Linked DNA regions of Homo sapiens. The protein of the gene in region 1 purifies or fractionates together with the protein of each later gene. This does not show direct contact. Each region holds a gene or a part of one and is shown in the gene's direction. Other genes may lie near its edges.

Region 1 (6,047 bases):
TGCAGAGAAATTAGGGGGAGGAAGGGATACAAACAACAATAAACAAAAGAAAAATCCTGGAAAATTGATATAGGCCACATTACTCTGTAGTCCATACATCAGTAGGCAGGTATGAAAGCGGTTTATGTATGTAAATAGGTTGCTGTTATTTTCTTCTGAAGTTTAAGTTGTCTAGCTTCAGTTTGCAGAGCTTTACGAAAGCACAACTTAGTTTTTTAGTGACTCCAAATTAGGAAAAATGGGGAAAAAAGAAGGAAAACAATTGAAAACATTATTTTGAAGACTTGTAGCCAACAAAAATTAGAATTCAGTCCAAACTGTAGAAAACAATAAAAATTGCAAAACATTAGGCAAGACTAAAATCTAACAATAGGTGTACTACACTTTTTGAAACAATCTTTTCTCTCTCCAGTTTCCCATTTTTACTAAAGACAAATTATGGTAGGACTTGTTTGCTTTATTATACTTGGCCTAATTATTTGTATACAGAGCAGCAAGAATATATATATATTTTTTGAGATGGAGTCTCACTCTGCTGCCCAGGCTGGAGTGCAGTGGCGTGATCTCAGCTCACTGCAACCTCCACCTCCTGGGTTCAAGTGATTCTCCTGCCTCAGCTTCCCAAGTAGCTGGGATTACAGGTATGTGCTTTCACACCCAGCTAATTTTTATATTTTTAGTAGAGATGGGATTTCACCATGTTGGCCAGGCTGGTAAGAATAATTATTTTTTACATAGGCTTTTAAATTGGCTTTGATGAAACTGTGTTCTGTAGAAAGAATCTCAGATAAGACTTCTTTAAAGCTGAGCCCAGCCGTGGATTTGTGCTATCAAATACCTATGAATTGAGTTAACCTCTCCTCTTGAGGTTCCAAGGTAAACTTGGGGCTCCTGGGCCTGTCAGAAAGTGACATTCTTTACCTACCACAGATCAGGAACCCTGTACAGGGGCTGTGTAGATAAAGGTAAGAGGCCAATTTTTCCAAGGGGCTATCTTGGTTCCAGAAGTCAAGTTTGATTCCAAGGGAAAGCACACCATTCCAGTCAAAGTCTTGATAAAATAACCAGTTTCTCCAATTGTGTCCTGTTACAAATGGAAACAGATTCTTACTGCACTTACGTAAATAGCTGTATTGTTATAAGTTACAAATACTCACAAATAATTTCCAAATTCTGGAGAAATTAGGCAGAGAGACACAAATATGCCCCAAGTTTTGTTCATGGGAGTATACTTTAGTCAATTGCTAAAAGCTGTAAATAGCTTAAAAGAAAAGTTTTCTTGACTCTGAAAAACAAAAAAAAGGATCAGCAACGTTTTAAGCAAAAAGTTAAAAATATTACTTTAGTCTTCTATCAGTTTAGTTTATGCAGTTAATCCTGTTCTGCTTGATATTCGTGAACACTTCAGCTCTCCATGAGAGTCCTGAAAGTTTTTTCCTCTATTCTAAGGTTACAATCTCCAAAGTTATCAGAAACCTGCATTTAAGAACACCTGTTAGAGTTCTATAGCTGATTATAAAACCACCTTCTAAGGAGGACCAAAACAAGACAACAATTGTCTGTGGATGATGAAAGGTTTTAGGGCAGCCATAAAGAAACAATTGACAAGGAAATTTGTTATCTCTGTGGCATATGATAATTTAACATAACAATTATAATTATTACTGATAATGTACACTAAGTCATACCAAAATTACAGGAGTTTCCCATGATTTTGGAACACATACCAGTAACATATTTATACAAATACAGCCCAAAGAAAACCAAACACCATTTCATATTTGACTATGCTTCCTGTATAATTTTTATACCAAATAAGCCAAATATGTCATTTTCGGACTCTAGGGAACCTATTAATAATACCTTTTTTTTTTTTTTTTTGAGAGGGAGTCTCATTCTGTCGCCAAGCTGGAGTGCAGTGGTGCAATCTTGGCTCACGGCAACCTCTGCCCCTCAGGTTCAAGTGATTCTCCTGCCTCAGCCTCACGAGTAGCTGGGACTACAGGCATGCGCCACCACACCCAGCTAATTTTTGTATTTTTAGTAAAGATGGGGTTTCACCACGTTGGCCAGGATGGTCTCGATCTTTTGACCTCATGATCCGCTGGCCTTGGCTTCCCAAAGTGCTGGGATTACAGGTGTGAGCCACTGTGCCAGGCCCAACAATATCTTAAAGGATTAATTAGGTCAGAAAAAGACATAATTTATAGTTTGATTTTGGAAAGTTTGTCAAATATCAAAGGTTTAAAACACTTGATATCACAAAATAGAATTAATAGGTCATTGTGAAATAAGTTATTCATTTAACCAAAGTGATAACTCAAGGATTTCCCCAAAAAAGGTGAAAACCTTCATTCTTTGAGAGAGGAGACTTAATTTTCCAAACAATAAGCCCTAATAAAAACAGCATGAAGCCAATTAAATTCATTTTTCAAAATTTTATAAACAATCTATAACATTTTAATCTTGACCATAAGATATAACTTTCATAAGCCTTTCATAACCTTTATAACCTTTAGGAGTTGGTTAATGCTTCAAGAAAACCTTGTTAATCTGACACAGGGGCCCATATGCTGGTCTTGCATCAGTGTGCCTTTGACATTAATGATTAACATGTAGAGAAACAGAACTTGTTTTATCTCTTAAAATTGGCCCTCACAATCTCACATGCCCATCTCTTCTGTGATAGTCCCTGGGCCTTGAGGAGTTTAATAGCTTTAATTTCTGGCCCTGTGTTTCAGGAATACAGTTTATTTTGATTGGCATCTTCTACCAGGCCTGAAGATGGGGGGCTTTAATGGCTGTCAGTGTTTAAAAAATTAGCAGGACTTTGATGTCCTTTTTAGACCAAGGCATCAAAGCCCTGTAACTCAATGTCACAAGTACTTTAAAAGAGCATAAAGAGTGTGAAAGGAAATATCTTGGGCCCCCAAAATCACTAAGGAAATCTCAAGCTGGAAACTGCTTAGGGCAAACCTGCCTTCCATTCTATTTAGTCACTCCTCTGCTCACTGAGATAGATACATATCTAATTTGCCTCCTTTGGAAAGGCTAATCAGAAACTCAAAAGAATGTAACCGTTTGTTTACTATCTATTTGTGACCTGGAAGCTCCCTCCCCACTTAGAGTCTTCCTGCCTTTGTTTTAAGTTGTTCCACCTTTCCAGACTGAACCAATGTACTTCTTACATATATTGATTGATGTCTCATGTCTCCCTAAATGTATAAAACCAAGCTGTTCCCTGACCACTTTGGGTACATGTCATCAGGACTTCCTGAGGCTGTGTCATGGGCTCGTCCTCAAACTTGGCAAAATAAACTTTCTAAATTAACTGAGACCTGTCTGAGATTTTCTGGGTTCACAAGAGAGATACACAGATGTAGTAACCTTAATTTAAAAAAAGTTTTAATCTTTTTTTCCTAAGCAAACCAAAACTTAATAATAATATGACAACTTGATCATATAAAAGTTTTTGGTTTTGTTTGTTTTATAAATCCGCTTATTGTGACTTACATAGACCTTTTGTGACATGCTTGGACTTTCCAGTTTGTCTTGAACATCCCTCCTTCTTAAATAACCAGTCATGTCATTTTACTCTAGGACTAAATTTACCACACAATATTCTTTTTCATATGAAATTATTTCTCTTTAAGCTTTCTTACAAAAAAAATCTTTATTTTTATAACTTTCTTTACATCTCTTTTATTTCCTGGTTCCTTTTACCTTGTTTTATACATGATCTTTAAATAAGCTTTGAATTAGACAAAAATTTTTCACTTTTTTTTAAAGGACACACTTTTTTTTTTAGAAAGAACGTTTTCCTACAATTATATTTTTATTAGAAAATACCCAAATAATGAAATATCTATTATCTAATTTAATATAACTTTAGATTCTAAATTATGATGAATGTGTCTACAAGTATTTATTCTATTACATTTACCTAATTATTTTATTTTCATTGTTTACCTAGATTATTTATGAAAACTGTGATAGTCATCATTTAAAATTATGGAACCACCATTGCAAAATTATAACTGAGACAGTGAAAAAGATTTAACTTAACTGGCCCCATCTTGCTTTTAACCTTCAAACTGTCCTTGTTCATTCCTGGGCATAGGCCAAACAAATTTTGAGAGGAACTTAGTTTATAGTTTAGCTTTGAAACAAAGACGATAACAAACCTTACTTCCTGTGGACTAGACCACCTAAAGCCACAAAATTAAAGTTATGGTAATCTTACTAAATTTAAGGTTTAGCTATTTTTATTAAACCAATATCAATGTCTTATTTATTAAAGATTACACAAGCAGAGATCATTCTGTTTTGGTCTGAGTTTATAGTTTTCTAATCCCTATGCCAAATTTTGACACCTTATAGTGTTTGGCAGTAATAAGTATGAAATTGCTTGATTAATAAATGCAAACAAAAATGTATGCTGGCAATTCTTAAGACATTTCTAATATTACTTTACCAATAATTTTAAAGCTAGCTTATTTATTAAATATTTTACTTAAGTTACATGAACTTGAAAAAGGATTTGACTAGTCTTCCTTTTTCTGATAAAGTATTTGATGATTTAAGTGCTTTTCTTTTTCTTTAAGCCAATTAATTAGAGCTCTTTTATATATTTTCAGTAGTGAAACATTGTGTACACAACACATAAATGCATTGACATATTAGTCATGCCAATAGAAGTACATCTTATAGATTCATAAAGACCTTTTTTCTTTCCTATCTTAGACTTCCAGATTCTTGATAACCTGTTTCACAACACTAGGCAGTTCTCAGCTAAATAGCCTTAAATTTTCATATTAAAGGAAACAACTCAGGTGAAAAGTCAAATAGCAAAATTTACACCATAAGGTACAAAGAGAAAAAGTCTGATGGTTCTAGAGGGAGATTGAAGATGGATGTCAAATCAAACACAAAATTACAGAAATCTATCATAGGATTGTATAAGGAGACAAATTTTATTTAGATAGGGACTACCTATCTTTTTTTTTGAGACGGAGTTTTGCTCTTGTTGCCCAGGCTGAAGTGCAATGGTGCGATCTAGGCTCACTGCAACCTCCTCCTCCCAGGTTCAAGTGATTCTCCTGCCTCAGCCCCCTGAGTAGTTGGGATTACAGACATGTGCCACCACACCCAGCTAATTTTTGTATTTTTAGTAGAGACACGGTTTCACCATGTTGGCCAGGCTGGTCTTGAACTCCTGACCTCACGTGATCCACACACCTTGACCTCCCAAAGTGTTGGGATTACAGGCGTGAACCACCACACCCGGCCTGGGACTACCTGTCTTTTAACTGGATCTCTGAGCTCTGGGAGGAGCCCACACTGAATCCTGGGTCTCCAAAAAGGGAGAATTATTTTGAGGTTAAACCATGTGATGCTTTTATAGTGCACTTAAAAATTTTGTTGTTGTTGTTTTTTGTTTTTTAATAAAGACATTTCTAAGTGTCTAAGCTACATTCTTCCTTAAAAATCCCAGAGTGGCCTCTGTTGCAATAGCTATTAATGAAGAAAACAGAATTCAGTCAACTGAGAAGAAAAAACTTGCAAAAAAAAAAAAAAAAAAAAAAAAGACAAGGTTTTGGGTGAGAAAAAAACAAAACAAAAACATGAAGGCCTTTTAAATACAAACACACCTTGGATGTTAGCTTTTAATTAAGCTGACTTTTAACCATTGAGCTCATTTTAAAAAATCTTTTAAAATCTCATTACTATATTTCATCTAGGACAAATTGCTGCTATTTCAGAAGTACCAAGTATCAAACCAGAAAGGGTTTGATTTAGGAACCAAACCTAGGCTGTTGTGATAGGGAAAAAAAGAAGGCAGAACTTTAGCTATTGAACTACAGGGTGAGGTGACAGCCATTGCTTTCAGTTGGCAGCTAGCAAAAAGGTGGCCTTGTTATGAAAATAAAGCCCCTTTAGTAATCAAAATAAAAAAATGTTCCCTTCTCTTTTTTTTTTCTTTTGCTGGCCATTTTTCTCCTACACCACCCTTTTTTGTGTGTGGGAATTTAACCACTTCAGAGGAC
Region 2 (6,047 bases), on another chromosome or scaffold:
GGTATTTTGTACACTGCTTCCCTGGGTTATATAAAGTACGTAGCATGATTCTCAGAAGATAATGAGATCAGAGGTGTTAGTGATTTGGTTTTTATTTTTCCTTCTCTTTTGGCTGTAGAGTTTACAGAATGTTAGCACTAGAAAAGACCTTAGGCCTCACCTACTTTGACCCCATCCCTTTAGGAACCCTAAATGAAAAGTTCCCATAGCCACCTATACTAATATCTTCCAAAGACTAAACAGCTCTAATGAGGGTGAAATAAAAACACACAGTTCTATGTTTAGGAAAATGTAAAGGGAAAGATGTTGATAATGTATGTTTTTGTTTGTTTGTTTGTTTTGAAATGGAGTCTTGCTCTGTCGCCCAGGCTGGAGTGCAGTGGCGCGATCTCAGCTCACTGCAACCACCGCCTCCCCGGTTCAAGCAATTCTCCTGTCTCAGCCTCCCGAGTAGCTGGGATTACAGGTTTCCACCACCACCCCCCGCTAATTTTTGTATTTTTAGTAGAGATGGGGTTTCACCATGTTGGCCAGGCTGGTCTCAAACTCCTGACCTCAAGTGATCCACCTGCCTAGGCCTCCCAAAGTGCTGGGATTACAGGCGTGAACCACCACTCCCGGCTTGACAGTGTTTTATTAAGTGGAAAGTCTACACTTTTCACTCTGGTTGTAAACAAATACATTTTAAGACTACAGGATTAACCTAGAGGACATTATGTTAAGTGAAATAAGCCAGGCACAGACAGACATATATAGCATGATCTCATTCATGTGTGGAATGTAAAAAATGTTGATCTCATAGAAGTAGTGAATAGAACAGCGGTTACTAGAGTCTGGGGAAGGGAGGGTGGAGGTGGGGAGGACAGAGGATGGTCAATGGGTACAAAGTTACAATTAGAAGGAGGAATAGAGGAATAAGTTTTGGTGTTCTACTGCACAAAAGGATGATCATAGTTACAATAAGATACTGTATATATCAAAATAGGAGAGAGGATTTTAAATGTTTCTACTACAAAGAAATGATAAATATTTGAGATGATGGGCATGCTAATTACCCTGCTTTTGATCATTACACAATTACACATGTATTGAGCATCACATTATACTCCATGACTTAAAGGATTAATTTACAGGAAAATTGGGTGAAAGAAAACACTTTTAAAAATTCCTTTTCATTTTTATTTTTCTTAATTCTCCCAGTTTCAGACATATTTATTTATTTATTTATTTATTTATTTGAGACAGAATCTTGCTCTGTCACCCAGGCTGGAGTGCAGTGGTGTCATGAAAAGCTCACTGCAACCTCTGCCTCCTGGGTTCAAGTGATTCTCCTGCCTCAGCCTCCTGAGTAGCTGGGATTACAGGTGCGTGCCACCATGCTCAGCTAATTTTTTTGTATTTTTAGTAGAGATAGGGTTTCACCATGTTGGCCAGGCTGGGCTCAAACTCATGGCCTCAAGTGATCCACCCACCTCAGCCTCCCAAAGTATTGGGATTACAGGTATGAGCCCCCGCACCCAGCAAATTTCTTTCTTTCTTGTTGTTTTTTAAGATAAAGTCTTGCTCTGTCACTCAGGCTGAAGTGCAGCGGCTTGATCATGGTCCACTGCAGCCTGAAACTCCTGATCTCAAGTGATCCTTCTGCCTCAGCCCCCTAAATTGCTGGGATTACAGGAGTGAGCCATTCTCCAACTCCCAGCCGTCTAGATTTCTTGTAATACCTAATACAATGTACATGCTTTATAAATGGTTGTTACACTATATTGTTTAGGAACTAATGACAAGAAAAAAGTCTGTACATGTTCAATACAGACACAACTGTTCATCTATTTTTCCAAGTATTTTTTTACCCATGGTTGGTTGAATCCATGGATGTGAAACCCACACATAGGAAGGGCTGAGTAATTAGGAATCAAGATCATGACAAACCCCAAATGTAAATAATCACAGCATACGTCATGAGGTTTTAATGATTAAAAATCTAAGCAGATGAGTTTATACTTACTCTACATAAAAATTGCTGAATGTTCATTTCAACTATTTTATGTGTTTAATGAGTCATAAAATACTAGAGTCTCTACTGTAGGTAATAAATTTAGAGTCCTGTCAGCAATTGCTATAAAGAAACAGGTTCAAGAGACCAGTTGACCTGGGCTTATCTGCGCTTTCCAAGAAACTTTTGCCTTCAGATTCAATACTGGATTCAATACTTTACATTTTTCTTTGGTGGGAGGGAGGCAAAGGAGAAATAATATCAGAGATCCTGGAAAATTTTAAGATGCACATACTTTTGCAAAGTTAGTATTGATTAGAATAAGAATGGAATTTATAATTGCAAATAGGCAGGTAATGAAGCATATTTTCAAATTGTTTCTCATTTAAAGTAAAAAACTTGTTCTTTCAGCGCCCTTTGGCTCTGGGAGCTGATATTTCTATGTATTCTGCAACAAAATACATGAATGGTAAGATGCATACTTTGAATGTTCTTTTTCATGGATAGGTGAAAATTGCATAGGGCTTGGCTTTTGATCCCTTTTCTTTGATTATTTTGTAGATTATTTCCTGTGACTCATAGAGAGAGTAAAAAAAAAAATCCTTTGATTAAATGTAGGATTTCATTAACAGTACACAAAACTATGCTCATGATTTATGAGAAGAGGATTAAAGTTGGCCATAAAAAGTTATGCTTTTATCTTGCTGACACCTTAAAGAAACATTTTGTTTTTATATAATTTTTATTTTCTTGTTTTAGACATAGCTTTTGCTACTGTCCAGTTGAATAAAGGTTACTTAAACTTATTTTATAGAGCTTTTTCCCTGAGAGTTTTTTCAAGTGAAAATCACATTTTGAAAATTATAAAATAAAGAGTAAACATAAATTGTTTCTAACTGAAATTTTTGTTTGTTTGTTTGTTTTTTGTTTTTAGGCCACAGTGATGTTGTAATGGGCCTGGTGTCTGTTAATTGTGAAAGCCTTCATAATAGACTTCGTTTCTTGCAAAACTGTAAGTATTAAAAAGTGCAGGTTCCCTATGACACTCTCAGTGACTACATTTGATATTTGTATTTCCACTAAGTGATGTGAAGTGATGGCATTCTAATAATTTATGAAGAAATGAAAAATAGAGGAGAAAAATTCTGATTTTTTTTATTTATTAATTTTTTTTTTTGAGATGGAGTTTCACTCTGTTGCCCAGGCGGGAGTGAAGTGGCGTGATCTCAGCTCACTGCAACCTCCACCTCCTGGGTTCAAGCGATTCTCCTGCCTCAGCCTCCTGAGTAGCTGGGATTACAGGTGCCCACCACCATGCCCAGCTAATTTTTTATATTTTTAGTAGAGACGGGGTTTCACCGTGTTGACCAGGCTGGTCTCAAACTCCTGACCTCAGGTGATCCACCTGCCTTGGCCTCCCAAAGTGTTGGGATTACAGGCATGAGCCACCGTGCCTGGCCAAAAAAATTTTTTCTGATTTTAGAGGAAAGTGTTATAAAAATAGTTATTGCAGGCTGGGCACGGTGGCTCATGCCTGTAATCCCAGCACATTGGGAGGCTGAGGCAGGTGGATCACTTGAGCTTAGGAGTTTGAGATCGGCCTGAGCAACATGGCAAAACCCTGTCTTTACCAAAAATACAAACCAATTAGCCAGGTGCAGTGGCATGTGCCTGTGGTCCCAGATACTCAGAGGCTGAGGCAGGAGGATTACCTGAGCCTGGGAGGCGAAGGTTGCAGTGAGCTGACATCGTGCCACTGCAATCCAGCCTGGGCAACAGAGTGAGATCCTGTCTCAAAAAACAAAAAACAAAAACGGTTATAGCATAGCAAGGCTTTATGATATGATATAAGAAATGAGTTTTTTTATTTTCATGTCCATCTTAATTATAATCATAATTTGATAAAGCCCTAGTGAATTTTTAGTTTCAAGACTTAATGGTTTTTTTTTCTTTTTTAAAATTACATTTGAAATGAGGGCTTTCATATACTATACCTTTTATATCACGAATGATGGTTAATTTTAAATAGCACTTACAGTATAAACTTACATTTTTCAATAGATGTCTAAACACCATTTCCTATTTACATTGCTTAGTTTATCTCCAGTATAGTTAAAGATTAAGCCATTGTAACTTGACAGGTAAAATATAAACATGATTAGGAATAAAAATGTCCTCCACAAGGGAAACTGAAACTTATTGCTTGATAAGTGTCCTTTGGTTTATAAAAAGTAGAAATGAAGTATATATCCTGGAGGCATGTGAAATCATTGACCGCTTTGCACAAAGGCTAAATAGAATATTAGTAGAATATTCAGTAATAATAGGACTTGAACTGCTGTTTTTCTCTGTATGTTAAAATAATTTTTCAAAGAAATACAAGGTTAGGCTATGAACAATTTATGATTTTATTAAAATCATAGAAAGGACTACTTATCTTCATATTTGAGAAGTTTATATCATTGTGCTTTTACTTAGTTTTCAGCATATTTGCTTCCCCTCATTTTAAAGTAAATTTCTCTAAGCATATTCTATGCTTTGTTCTTCTGCTTCTGATTTGATATATTATTTTCCTCCTAGAACTCAAACATTGAGCTTTACACCTAGCTTCTGAGAGTCACTGTAATGGAAAAGAGAAGCCAGATAATTTCTTGGCCATACCCTGCCTTCAAACTTATCCAGGATGTGTTCATTTTGCAGCTCTTGGAGCAGTTCCATCTCCTATTGATTGTTACCTCTGCAATCGAGGTCTGAAGACTCTACATGTCCGAATGGAAAAGCATTTCAAAAACGGAATGGCAGTTGCCCAGTTCCTGGAATCTAATCCTTGGGTAGAAAAGGTTATTTATCCTGGTATGTTAATTTGATTTCTAAGCAGATCTACTAGGATTTCAGCAGTTATCCTGAGCATCGTGTTTATGTAACATTTATTTGTAAGTTAGGTGCTTTCACGTATTGTTTTTGTTCATTTATTATTGAGCACTGCCATGTGTCAGGCTCTGTGGTGGGTCAGGTGGAAAGAAGATAGACCTGGTCTCTACTGTTGTATTGCCTCTAGTTTAGTGGATGCTTGGATAGTAGAAAATCAGTTTTATGCATTAGTTGTTCCTGTGGTGGTCTGTGATTTGAAGGCTTGTGTATACCTATTCAAAGATTTTAACATTAGACTTTTCAGTTGATTTGCTTATAATCTTGTCTGTCTGCTATTCAGCATTAGCTGTCACTTTAATCTGATAGAGGTTTGTCCCAGTTGAGACTTGATATTAGGTGCTAAAATTCCCCTGAGGTTCTCTCTCTCTCTTTTTTTTTTTTTTTTTTTTTGAGACGGAGTTTCACTCTTGCCCAGGCTGGAGTGCAATGATGCAATTTCAGCTCACTGCAACCTCTGCCTCCCGGGTTCAAGTGATTCTCTTGCCTCAGCCTCCCGAGTAGCTGGGATTACAGGTGCCCGCCACCACGCCCAGCTATTTTTTGTATTTTTAGTAAAGACGGGGTTTCACCATGTTGGCCAGTCTGGTCTCGAACTCCTGACCTCAGGTGATCTGCCTGCCTTGGCCTCTCAAAGTGCTGGGATTACAGGCGTGAGCCACTACGCCCAGCCCCCTGAGGTTCTCTCCTGTATTTCTCTCCTGTATTTTTATTCCTTCACCTCTTCCAGCATCTAGAAAGTCTTCTGTGGAGTTGGCTGACTTACATCTTACTTTTTGAATTTATTTTTACCAGTCTTTTAAGCTGTGGTGGTCCTAAGTAGTTCTTTTCTTTTTAGATCCTTTTGAGGGTTCTAGCATCTAGAATATATAGAAAAATTAAGACTGGAATTTCACTAGGAAATTCACAAGGAATTTAGAGAAACCAAAGCGAAATACATATGAAACTAAATGCCCTAAAGGTACTTTAGGTAAAGAGCTGTTGATTGATATATATTTTGGATGGAGGGAGAGAGAAGAGTTTTGAGCTATGCCATGAAGAATGGGCAGCATTGGTTAAAAGGGCATAGACAAGGTATTGGAGATTTATTCAAGAAATTTTTATTAAACGCCAGCTATGAGCCAGG
Region 3 (6,047 bases), on another chromosome or scaffold:
GGAGTTCCAGACCAGCCTGGCCAACATGGTGAAACCCCGTCTCTACTAAAAATACAAAAATTAGCTGCGCATGATGGTGGGCGCCTGTAATCCCAGCTACTCGGGAGGCTGAGGCAGGAGAATTGCTTGAACCCAGGAGGGTGGAGGCTGCAGTGAGCCGAGATCACACCACTGCACTCCAGCCTGGGCAACAGAGTGAGACTGTCTCAAAAAAAAAAAAAAAAAAAAAAAGGCCTGGTGCTGTGGCTCACGCCTGTAATCCCAGCACTTTGGGAGGTTGAGGCGGGTGGATCACCTGAGGTCAGGAGCTTGAGATCAGCCTGGCCTGGCCAACATGGTGAAACCCCATCTCTACTAAAAATACAAAAATTAGCTAGGCATGGTGGTGGGTGCCTGTAATCCCAGCTGCTTGGGCGGCTGAGGCAGGAGAATCGCTTGAACCTGGGAGGCGGAGGTTGCAGTGAGCCGAGATTGCACCACTGCACTCCAGCCTGGGCGACAGAGCCAGACTCCATCTCAAAAAAAAATTATTTTTAATAGGTCATATATATTGATTTGAAATTCAGAAAGTGTAACATAGGCAGTGAAAAGTAACTCTGGCAGCCCCCATCCTCAACTACCTAGTCCCCCTCTGTAGAGCAGTCATCGTTACCTTTTTCTTACATGTACATACCTAGATGTTCTAGCATTTGCTTTAACCAATTTTCAGTTGATGGACGTTTAGGCTATTTCTACTCTTGTGGTATTAGAAACAGTGCAGCAGTGAATACACTTGTACATCCACTGTTTTGTACATGTGCAAGTGAATCTGTAGAATCAAGTTCTCCAAGTTTTTTTTGTTTCCATTGCTAAGACTCCTACATTTTTTAAAAGGATATTTTAACTTGGACAGTTATTGCCAAATTGCTCTCTATAGGAGTTGTACCAATTTATACTTTCACTAGTATTGTGTGAATGTGCCTCTTTCCTCCCACTTCTACTAATTGTTACCATACTTTTTTATCTTTTCTAATTTGTAAAGTATACTTACTGTATTTTTCTTATTGTAAGTGAAGTTGAACATATTATACTGTTTTGGAAGCTATTTGTATTTCCCATTCTGGGGTGTGTATGTTAATATTCTTAGCCCTTTTTTCTCTTGGGTTATTTTTTTTTTGTCTTGGGTTGTTGGTTTTTCTTACTAGGCAGAAAGTGTTTTTATGCAATGCAGTTCATTAACCAGCGGTCCCCAACCTTTTTGGCACTAGGGACTGGTTTCACGGAAGTCAGTTTTTCCACCAACGGGGGTTGTAGGGGAGGATGGTTTCAGGATGATTCAAGCGCATTACATTTATTGTGCATTTTATTTCTATTATTATTACGTTGTAATATATAATGAAATAATTATACAACTCACTGTAATATAGAATCAGTGGGAGCCCTGAACTTGTTTTCTTGTAACTAGATGGTCCCATCTGGGGATGACAGATCATCAGGCTTTAGATTCTCATAAGGAGCACACAGCCTAGATCCCTCAATGTGCAGTTCACAATAGTGTTCAAGCTCCTATGAGAATCTAATGCTGTGCCTGATCTGAAAGGAAGTGGAGCTCAGGCAGTAATGTTAGCAATGGGGAGCTGTTGTAAATATAGAAGAAGCTTTGTGAGCTCATGTCCTGCTGTGCTGCCTGGTTCCTAACAGGCCACCAACTGGTACTGGCCAGGGGGTTGGGGACCCCCTGCATTGACCCTTTCTTTCTTTTCTTTTTTTTTTTTTTTTGAGACAGAGTCTCGCTTTGTCATCCAGGTTGGAGTACAGTGGCATGATCTCCAGTCACTGCAACCTCTGCCCCCCAGGTTCAAGTAATTCTTCTGCCTCAGCCTCCTGAGTAGCTGGGACTACAGACATGCACCACCACACCTGGCTAATTTTTTTTTTTTTTTTTTTTTGAGACAGAGTAGCTGGGATTACAGGTATGCACCACCGTGCCTGGCTAATTTTGTATTTTTAGTAGAGATGGGGTTTCTCCATGTTGGTCAGGGTGGTCTCGAACTTCCAATCTCGAACTTCCAATCTCAGGTGATCCGCCCGCCTCGGCCTCCGAAGTGCTGGGATTACAGGCGTAAGCCACCACGCCTGGCATTTTTTTTTTTTTTTTTTTTTTTTTTTTTTTTGAGACAGTATCTTGCTCTGTCTCCCAGGCTGGAGTGCAGTGGCACCATCTCAGCTCACAGCAACCTCCGCCTCCTGGGTTCAAGTGATTCTCTTGCCTCAGCCTTCCGTATGGCTGGGATTACAGGTGCCCACCACCACACCCGGCTAATTTTTGTGTTTTTTTTTTAGTAGAGACAGGGTTTCACCATGCTGGCCAGGATGGTCTTGAACTCCTGACCTCAAGTGATCCGCCCACCTGAGCCTCCCAAAGTGCTGGGGTTACAGGCATGAGCCACCACTCCCGGCCAACCCTTTTTTTTATGGCTTCTAAGATAAGAAGTCATACTCAGGGAATGCCTTGTCCACTGAGATTTTAAAATAATTTTCCTAATTTTTTTTTTATACATTTGAAAATAGAACTTTTGGCCGGCGGATCACGAGGTCAGGAGATTGAGGCCATCCTGGCTAACATGGTGAAACCCTGTCTCTACTAAAAATACAAAAAAATTAGCCGGGCGAGGTGGCGGGCGCCTGTAGTCCCAGCTACTCGGGAGGCTGAGGCAGGAGAATGGCGTGAACCCGGGAGGCGGAGCTTGCAGTGAGCCGAGATTGCACCACTGCACTCCAGCCTGGGCAACAGAGTGAGACTCTTTCTCAAAAAAAAATAATAATAAAATAAAAAACTTTAATTGAATAACCTGGAATTAGATACCAAGAAAAAAAAATCTTTTTTTTTTTCCCTGAGACAGTCTCATTCTGTCACCCAAGCTGGAGTAGTGCAGTGGTGCGACTTTGACTCACTACAACCTCTGCCTCCTGGACTCAAGTGATCCTCCAACCTCAGCCTCTTGAGTAGCTGGGATTACAGGCGTGCACCATCATACCCAGCTAATTTTTCATTTTTAGTAGTGATGGAGTTTCACCATGTTGGCCAGGCTGGTCTCGAATTCCTGACCTCAGATGATCTGTCTGCCTTGGCCTGCCAAAGTGCTGGGAGTACAGACGTGAGGCACTGCACCCAGCCAAAATACATCTTTTATTGAAGTATGATGTACTTATAGAAGAGTGCCCGTGTCATAAGTGAATTTTCAGAAACTGAGTACACTTGTATAAGTAGTATAATAGTTCTCAAAATGTAATCTCTGTATTCCTGGGGTTCCCTATATCCTTCCAGAGGGTCTGTGATGTCAAAACTATTTTCATAATAATACTGAGGTGTTATTGTTTTCACTGTGTTGATATTTGTACTGGTGGTACAAAATCAGTGGTTGGTAAAACTGGCCCCAGCCTGTAGTCCCAGCTACTCCAGAGGCTGAGGTGGGAGCATCACTTGAACCCAGGAGTTTGAGACTCGGCTTGGTCTTTTGGAGCTATAATTGTACCACTGCACTCTATCCTGGGCTACAGAGTAAGGCTGGGCTCTATCTTTTGGAGCTATAATTGCCCCCACTGCACTCCATCCTGGGCTACATAGCAAGACTCTGTCTGTGAAAGAAAAAGCAAAAACAAAATCTCTTGGCCCTTTAGTACAAATTGAGACAGCAGCACCAAACTGTATGCTAGAAAGGGTCTCCCTCTGTCTCCCAGGCTGGAGTATAGTGGCGCTGTCATGGCTCACTGCAAGCTTGAGCTCCTAGGCTCAAGCTGTTCTCCCACCTCAGCCTCCTGAGTAGATGGGACTACTGTCTATGCCTGGCTACTACACCTAGCTAATTATGTTATTTTTTATAGAGATGGGGTCTTGTCGTGTTGCCTAGGCTGATCTTGAAATCCTGGCCTTAAGCAATCGTCCTGCCTTGGCCTCCCAAAGTGCTGGGATTACAGGTGTGAGCTACTGCACCTAGCCCTAAGGACATTCTTGAATGAAAATGACTTTTTTTTTTTGAGATGAAGTCTCACTCTGTTGACAGGCTGGAGTGCAGTGGCGCCATCTCGGCTCACTGCAACCTCCTCCTCCCAGGTGCAAACAATTCTCCTGCCTCAGCCTCCTGAGTAGCCAGGACTGCAGGCACACGCCACCATGCCCAGCTAATTTTTGTATTTTTAGTAGAGACGGGGTTTCACCATGTTGGCCAGGATGGTCTCAATCTCTTGACCTCGTGATCTGCCCACCTCGGCCTCCCAAAGTGCTGGGATTACAGGCGTGAGCCACCGTGTCTGGCTGCCTTTTTATTATTATATTATTTTTAATTTTAAGTGCGTGGTAGTAAATTAAACACCTGGGTGAGGTGGCTCGTGCCTATAATCCTAACACTTTGGGAGGCCTAAGCCGGAGGATTTCTTGAACCCAGGATTTCCAGATTAGTCTGGGCAACACAGTGAAACACATCTCTACAAAAAAAAAAAAAAAAAAAAAAGCTGGGTGTGGTGGCATGTGTGTGTAGTCCTGTAGTCGCACCTACTGGGGAAGCTGAGCCAGAAGGATTGTTTGAGCTCAGGCGTTCAAGGTTGCAGTGGGTTATCATCATGCCACTATACTCCCGGCCTGGGTGACAGAGTCCCTGACTCCAAAAAAAAAAAAAAAAAAGGAAAAAGAAAAGAACATTCTTAGGATAGAAGCAGTGGCTCACACCTATAATCCCAACACTTTGGGAGGCTGTAATGCCCAACCTGGTATTTACTAACTCTGTTTTTAGACTCTCCCTTTTCCCTTAATCACCTAGTCTTGTTTCCACCTGAATTGACTCTCCCTTAGCTAAGAGAGCCAGAGAGACTCCATCTTGGCTCTTTCACTGGCAGCCCCTTCCTCAAGGACTTAACTTGTGCAAGCTGACTCCTAGCACATCCAAGAATGCAATTAACTGATAAGATACTGTGGCAAGCTATATCCGCAGTTCCCAGGAATTCGTCCGATTGATAAACGCCCAAAGCCCCGGATCTATCACCTTGTAATAGTCTTAAAGCCCCTGCACCTGGAACTGTTTACTTTCCTGTAACCATTTGTCCTTTTAACTTTTTGACTACTTTACTTCCGTAAAATTGTTTTAACTAGACCCCCCCTCCCCTTCCTAAACCAAGGTATAAAAGTTAATCAAGCCCCTTCCTTGGGGCCGAGAGAATTTTGAGCATTAGCCGTCTCTAGGTCGCCGGCTAATAAAAGACTCTTAATTTGTCTCAAAGTGTGGCGTTTTTCTAACTCGCTTGGGTACAACAAGGCCAAGGTGGAAGGATCACTTGAAGCTAGGAGTTTGAGCAACCTGTGCAACCTAGTGAGACCCCCATCTTTTTAATAGAAAAAGAAAAAAAAAAGTAAAAAAAATTAGCTGGGGCCAGGCATGGTGGCTCACGCCTGTAATCCCAGCACTTTGGGAGGCTGAGGCAGGCGGATTACGAGGTCAGGAGTTCAAGACCAGCCTGGCCAACATAGTGAAACCCCCTCTCTACTAAAAATACAAAAAATTAGCCCAGTGTGGTGGTGCACGCCTGTAGTCGTAGCTACTCGGGAGGCTGAGGCAGGAGAATAGCTTGAACCCGGGAGGCAGGGGTTGTGGTGAGCCGAGATCATGCCACTGCACTCCAGCCTGGGCCACAGTCCCAGCTACCTAGAGGCTGAGGCAGGAGGGATCTCTTGAGCCCAGGAGGTCAAGGCTGCTGTGAGCCATGATTGTGCCACTGTACTCCACCTTGGTAGACAGTGAGAACCCATCTCTTTAAAGAAAAAAAAACCAAAAACTAAAACAAAAACTAAAGGCCAAGTGCAGTGGCTAATATCTGTAATCCCAGTACTTTGGGAGGCCAAGGCGGGTGAATCACCTGAGGTCGGGGGTTCGAGACCAGCCTGACAAACATGGAGAAACCCCCGTCTCTACTAAAAATACAAAAAATTAGCCATGCGTGGTGGTGCATCCCTGTAATCCCAGTTACTTGGGAGGCTGAGGCAGGAGAATCGCTTGAACCTGGGAGGCAGAGGTTGC
Region 4 (6,047 bases), on another chromosome or scaffold:
CACCACGCTGTTATGATGGCTACCAGGTCATCAGGCAATAGTGATCAGAATTTTTCAGCTTCGTTATAATGTTATGGGACCACCATAGTATGTGTGGTTTGTTGCTGACCAAAGCATCATTATGTGGCAAGTCCCTTTATATATGGAATTCAGTGTTGTCCTCGGTTTCAGGCATCTGCTGGAGATCTTGGAAGACATCCCCCACAGATAAGGGGGGACTACTGTACTTGTTTCCCTAACGTAGTGACTGGTTAGTAGTTCTCAATAAATGCTTGTTGAATAAATGAATGCCATTTTTTTACTTACTTATAGCACTTTCTATTCTATTGCTACTCTATATGCTTGTTAAAGGTGAGTTTTTTGTTTTTGTTTTTGTTTTTTTTTTTTTTGGAGACGGAGTTTTGCTCTTGTTGCCCAGGCTGGAGTGCAATGGCACGATCTCGGCTCACTGCAACCTCTGCCTCCCGGGTTCAAGCGATTCTGCTGCCTCAGCCTCCTGTGTAGCTGGGATTACAGGAATGCGCCACCAAGCCTGGCTAATTTTGTATTTTTTTAGTAGAGACGGGGTTTCTCCATGTTGGTCAGGCTGGTCTTGAACTCCCGACCTCAGGTGATCTGCCTGCCTCAGCCTCCCAAAGTGCTGGGATTACCAGCATGAGCCACTGCGCCCGGTCTAAAGGTGAGATTTATTTTATTTATTTTTGAGACGGAGTCTTGCTTTGTCACCCAGGCTAGAGTGCAGTGGCACGATCTCAGCTTACTGCAACCTCCATCTCCTGGGTTCAAGCGATTCTGGTACAGCTAGGATTACAGGGACCAGCCAACATGCCTGGCTGATTTTTGTATTTTTAGTAAAGATGGGGTTTCATCATGTTGCTCAGGCTGGTCTTGAACTCCTGAGCTCAAGTGATCTACCCACCTTAACCTCCCAAAGTGCTGGAATTACAAAAGGTGAGTTTTTGTTTTGTTTTGTTTTTTGTTTTTTTGAGATGGAGTCTCCCTCTGTCACTCGGGCTAGAGTACGGTGGTGTGATCTCAGTTCACTGCAACCTCTACCTCCTGGGTTCAAGCAATTCTACTGCCTCAGTCTCCCAAGTAGCTGGGATTACAGGCACACGCCACCATGCGTGGCTAATTTTTGTATTTTGTTAGTAGAAACGGGGTTTCACCATATTGGCCAGGCTAGTCTCGAACTCCTTACCTCAAGTGATCCACCCGCCTCGGCCTTCCAAAGTGCTAGGATTAAAGGCGTGAATCACCACGCTCAGCCAAAAGGTAAGATTTAAGTGAAACTAGTTCCACATTGTTTGTGTGGGTTTGAATAAGGCAATACTTTCTCTTTAGAAGTAAGATTGAGGCTCAGGGAAGTTGTAACTCACAGACCCTACTCTTCCACCTTCATCACACTGACATCTCCTTATTTTTCTCAGTAGTTTAGCCTTCCACAGTGTGTGCCATGAGCTATTTCTCTGTCTCTGTACATGTGGTTTGTTTTACCCATATTATTAAAATTACTAGAAACAAAATTCAAAACCAGCCTGAAAAATCATATACCCTTATAGGCCTCTAAGCATTTTCGTCCTTGGCAACTCAGGCATCTCTTTATAACTTCTCCAGTTGTGAATCTTCAACAACATAGATATCCATATAAACCCAACAATGGAAAAACAAATATACAGGCAGGGTGTATAGGTACTGAATGTATTTTGTGCTGTTCTATTCCCCTTAAAGTTACTCTGAATTCTTTAAGTGTTAGTCACACATACACATCTGCCCTTAATAGAGCAAAATGCTTCACTAGATTTGTGGGTCCTGTTTTTTTTTCATTGACTTCCATTATAATGTCAGAACTGTTTCCTGTTAGAAAAATATTTGGCCTCTAAGCCTAATAAAAGTGCACTTGTGCAGCTGATCTTTTAAAACTGCAAAGTTAATGGAAAAATCATAACTTTCTCAGTAAAATAGTAATGAGACTTTACATATTGGCAGTATAGAAACAACAAATATATAGAATCTTCAGGAAATGAATTTGTATGGCTTGCCAAGTTTTTAACTAACTGATGGTTTTTACTGCATAAAAACTTTTTTAAAATGGGAAGAAAATCTTCATAGGAAGTTGTTCTTTTACATTTTAAGATTAATATCTGACTAAAATGTGTTCCATTTTCATTCTTTCATGCTGTCTCATAAGGGAATAATTGAACATTAGTCTAATAAGTCCAGTGTCACATTTAAGACCATCTGATTATAGATACTTGGCTCAAAGTCCACTTGTACTTTTAATACCTGTTAATATCATCTGCCTAAAAGTAGATTGTTCTATAAATTGTGAAATAATCAGATCACCTCTGAAGTTGGGTTGGTTGCTACCCGTAAGTCAAGTGTCTTCCAAATAACCGGTTCCAGTACTAATCAACCATATTATTTAGATGAGAATAACAAATGAACTAGAATAATTCAGTTTACTTTTCCTTCTTAACATGGAAAGGAACTTAATTCAGACTTGTTGTGCAGCAATGATGTTCCTTTTTATTTTTCATTTTCTTTTCTTTTTTTTTTTTTTTTGAGATGGAGTCTTGCTCTGTCTCCCAGGCTGGAGTGCAGTGGCATGATCTCGACTCACTGCGACTTCTGCCTCCTAGGTTCAAGCGATTCTCTTGCCTCAGCCTCCTTAGTAGCTGGGATTACAGGCATGTGCTACTACGGCTGACTAATTTTTGAATTTTTAGTGGAGACAGGGTTTCGCCATATTGGCCAGGCTGGTCTTGAACTCCTGGCCTCAAGTGATCCTCCCGCTTCAGCCTCCCAAAGTGTTGGGATTACATGCATGAGCCACTGCGCCCAGACTAATTTTCTATTATGACATAATTTCAGTCTTTCAGAGAAGTTGCAAGTATAGTAAAAGATTTCCTGTATATTCTCCCAGAGTCCCCCAATTTTTTTTGAGACAGTCTTGCTCTGTCACCCAGGCCGAAGTGTAGTGGCAAGTGTAGTGGTGCAGTCACAGATCATTGCAGCCTCAACTTCTTGGGCTCAAGTGATCCTCCCACTTTAGCCACCACACCCAGCTAATTAAAAAAATTTTTTTTTTATAGAGACAGGGTTTCCTCATATTGCCCAGGATGGTCCCGAGCTCCTGGGCCCAAGTAATCCACCTGCCTCAGCCTCCCAAAGTGGTGGGATTACAGACGTGAGCCACTGTGACTACAAATTCTGACATTTTACTACATGCCTTGTCTTTCTTTTTCCGTTTCTCTTTTTCTCTATTTTTTTCTCTTGCACACACCTTTTTCCTGAAACGTTTGTAAGTTGCAGTTAACCCCTGAATGCTTCAGATTTATTTTCTAAAATCAAGGGCATTCTCTTCTCAAAAGACGTTTTTCATCATCAAAATTAGGAAATTAACATTGCAGCAATGCGATTATCTAATCAACAGGCTTTATTCCGTACCCATTAGTGTCCTAATGATGTATTTGTAACAAAAAATACCTTACAAATCATTGTTGCATTCTTCAGGTGTCATTATTCTGTAGCCTCCTCTAATCGCGAGCAATTGCTCAGTCTTTGTCTTTCATGGCATTGTTAGTTGAATTATTTTGTAGAATGCCCCTCACTTTAGGTTTGTTATGGCCATTTTCTTAATCACCTCATTTAATAAGTCAACCATCAAAACATTCCTCTATTATTATTTTGGCTGTAGCTTAGACAGCTTGGCCTGCAGAGACAACTTTATTAATATTTTATATCAGTTATTATTTTTTCTTTTTTGAGACAGTCTTGCTGTCACTCAGGCTGGAGTGCAGTGGCATGATCTTGGCTCGCTGCAACCTCTGCCTCCCAGGTTCAAGCAATCCTCATGCCTGAGCCTCTCCAGTAGCTGGAACCACTGGCGTGTGCCACCACACCTGGCTAATTTTTGTATTTTTAGTAGAGATGGGGTTTCAACATGTTGGCCGGGCTGGTCTCAAACTTCTGGCCTCAAGTGATCTGCCCACCGCGGCCTCCTGAAGTGCTGGGATTACAGGTGTGAGCCACTGCACCTGGCCTATATTGTTATTTTGAAAATTCTGTTCTAATTACAAAAGCCATCTGTATGTTTTATAGCAGGCTAACCAAGGTAACTGTTGTTAAAAAATGTTTATGCTTCCATACATATGAAGTATGTGCTTATATAAAAATAAAACATGTATGTGTATGTATATACACACACATACCATTATAATCATTTATTTTTTATAAATTGAATCATATAGATACACAAAAATACTGTTCGGATATTTAATTTCTTCACCTGCCGTTTCTTTTTAATGGGTACATGGTATTTTGTTTATGGATGTTCAAATCTGTAATATATTTAAAGAGTCTCTATTAAGGGATGTTTAGGTTGTAAAAAGATTATTGCTTGGTGGAGTATTTTGGTACTCTATTATGGTAACATTATAGGTAGTGACGTTATAGGATTGAAAGGGTATACACTTGAACTATTGCCAGGCCATGCAGAGAAAATCTGAAATGCTTTTTAGTTTTATTCCCACCCTTTTGGCATTTGTTACACGCTACACTAAGGCCTGATCAAGGTACTACAATGCTCAATAATAGACAAGCATTTCTATAAACTTGGCGATGCACACATTCTTTCAAGGTACTTTTCTCAACTACTTCTGGACTTCAGTTATTATAAATGTTAAACAAAGGAATTAGTTTTCTCTCCCCCGAGAAAGGCAACTAGGATTGATCATTTAAGAAGCTTCTCATTACTGAAAGTACAGGGCATCTCTCTGATATAAGGCTTTTTAATTTAGGAGAGCGTATTGCCCTTTGTCCTTCAGGGCTCCAGGTACATGTGTGTGTTCTGTGCTGTGGAGTGATAGCCAGCAGGCTGTTCAGCCCAACCCTGCACTTATCAGTACTTTGCTTCAGTGTGTATTTATTTTTCAGTACTTCTCCATCACAGGCTTTGTAGCCTGAGGGCCCAGTGTCTATGAATTCAGGAGTTTAGTCCAATTGGATCAAACAAGTTTTGGTAAACTAGCTTTGAAACCTGGCACTCAGTTATCCTTTCAGTAGGAATCCAAGGTAGGGACGTCTGCAATAAAACACCACCTTGGTAAAGCAAATATCATTTCTAGGATAAACCATACCCAGAAGATTCCATTTGAGTTAGGATAGTTGTTTCTAACCCTGACCTTATATTAGAATCACTTGGAAGGCTTTTAGAAAACACAGATGCTCACTCTTGCCCACCAGAGATTTGGATTGAGTTGATCTGAGGTGGAGCTGGGGCATAATTAGATGATTCTAATGTAGATCAGGGGTCAGAGTCACTGGTTTAGAAGTTGGAGAGTCATGGTCTCCCTGAATGTGATAGAGAGCCTGTTAGAATATGCAGCACACCTGGAATATGGGTAATATTGGCTAAAAACAATTATGCACAATAAAACTTTGGTAAACATGGGAACTTAGTTGTGGTGTTTAGTTTTCTTTTCTTTTCTTTTTTTTTTAACTCTTAAAGAAGGCAAAAGTATAGGACTGGACTGGCGATACCATTGAACTGTAACCCTGAGAAAGTAGGAAAGTAGCTATTAGTAAGGATGGTAAACTTTCTCTTTTGGGGCCAGATAGTAAATATTTTAGGCTTTGTGAGTCACCTACAATCTCCGTGGCTTATTCTTCTTTGTTTTGCTTTTTTTCCAACCCTTTAAAAACGTAAAAACCATTCTTAGCTCAAGGGCTGTCCAAAAACAGGTGGTAGGCTGGATTTGGATCATGGGCCATGGTTTGCCAGCCCCTAGTCTAAGAATTGTCACTTGTTTTTCACATGAAACAATTTTGTTGGTGATGAAGTTACTAATTGTTTTTTATTTTTGTTTTATCTTAGTTAATTCATCTGCCTACACTATTTACATGGGAAAAGATAAATATGAAAGTAAGTTTTCAAAAGCATTTGATTTTGAAATTTTCAGCAGGTAAGTGTTATCTCTCACTCACCACCTTCCATGCCCCCCACCCAGTTTGTTGGTTCTGAGTTTTCACCTACTTTGATAAAC

What was found.
Region 2: the proteins of RDH12 (region 1) and CTH purify together in Homo sapiens (affinity purification with mass spectrometry; one large-scale study listed by BioGRID and IntAct). This does not show direct contact.
Region 3: the proteins of RDH12 (region 1) and ZBTB8OS purify together in Homo sapiens (affinity purification with mass spectrometry, with the first as the bait; one large-scale study listed by BioGRID). This does not show direct contact.
Region 4: the proteins of RDH12 (region 1) and CCDC25 purify together in Homo sapiens (affinity purification with mass spectrometry, with the first as the bait; one large-scale study listed by BioGRID). This does not show direct contact.

Annotation. Positions count from the first base shown.
Region 1 is NC_000014.9:67,706,931-67,712,977, forward strand, and holds part of RDH12 (retinol dehydrogenase 12), read left to right. Parts: intron 1-6,047. UniProt on the Homo sapiens protein: Retinoids dehydrogenase/reductase with a clear preference for NADP. Displays high activity towards 9-cis, 11-cis and all-trans-retinal. Shows very weak activity towards 13-cis-retinol.
Region 2 is NC_000001.11:70,427,390-70,433,436, forward strand, and holds part of CTH (cystathionine gamma-lyase), read left to right. Parts: intron 1-2,404; coding exon 2,405-2,462; intron 2,463-2,927; coding exon 2,928-3,005; intron 3,006-4,693; coding exon 4,694-4,846; intron 4,847-6,047. UniProt on the Homo sapiens protein: Catalyzes the last step in the trans-sulfuration pathway from L-methionine to L-cysteine in a pyridoxal-5'-phosphate (PLP)-dependent manner, which consists on cleaving the L,L-cystathionine molecule into L-cysteine, ammonia and 2-oxobutanoate.
Region 3 is NC_000001.11:32,643,148-32,649,194, reverse strand, and holds part of ZBTB8OS (protein archease), read left to right. Parts: intron 1-6,047. UniProt on the Homo sapiens protein: Component of the tRNA-splicing ligase complex required to facilitate the enzymatic turnover of catalytic subunit RTCB. Together with DDX1, acts by facilitating the guanylylation of RTCB, a key intermediate step in tRNA ligation.
Region 4 is NC_000008.11:27,765,083-27,771,129, reverse strand, and holds part of CCDC25 (coiled-coil domain-containing protein 25), read left to right. Parts: intron 1-5,878; coding exon 5,879-5,926; intron 5,927-6,047.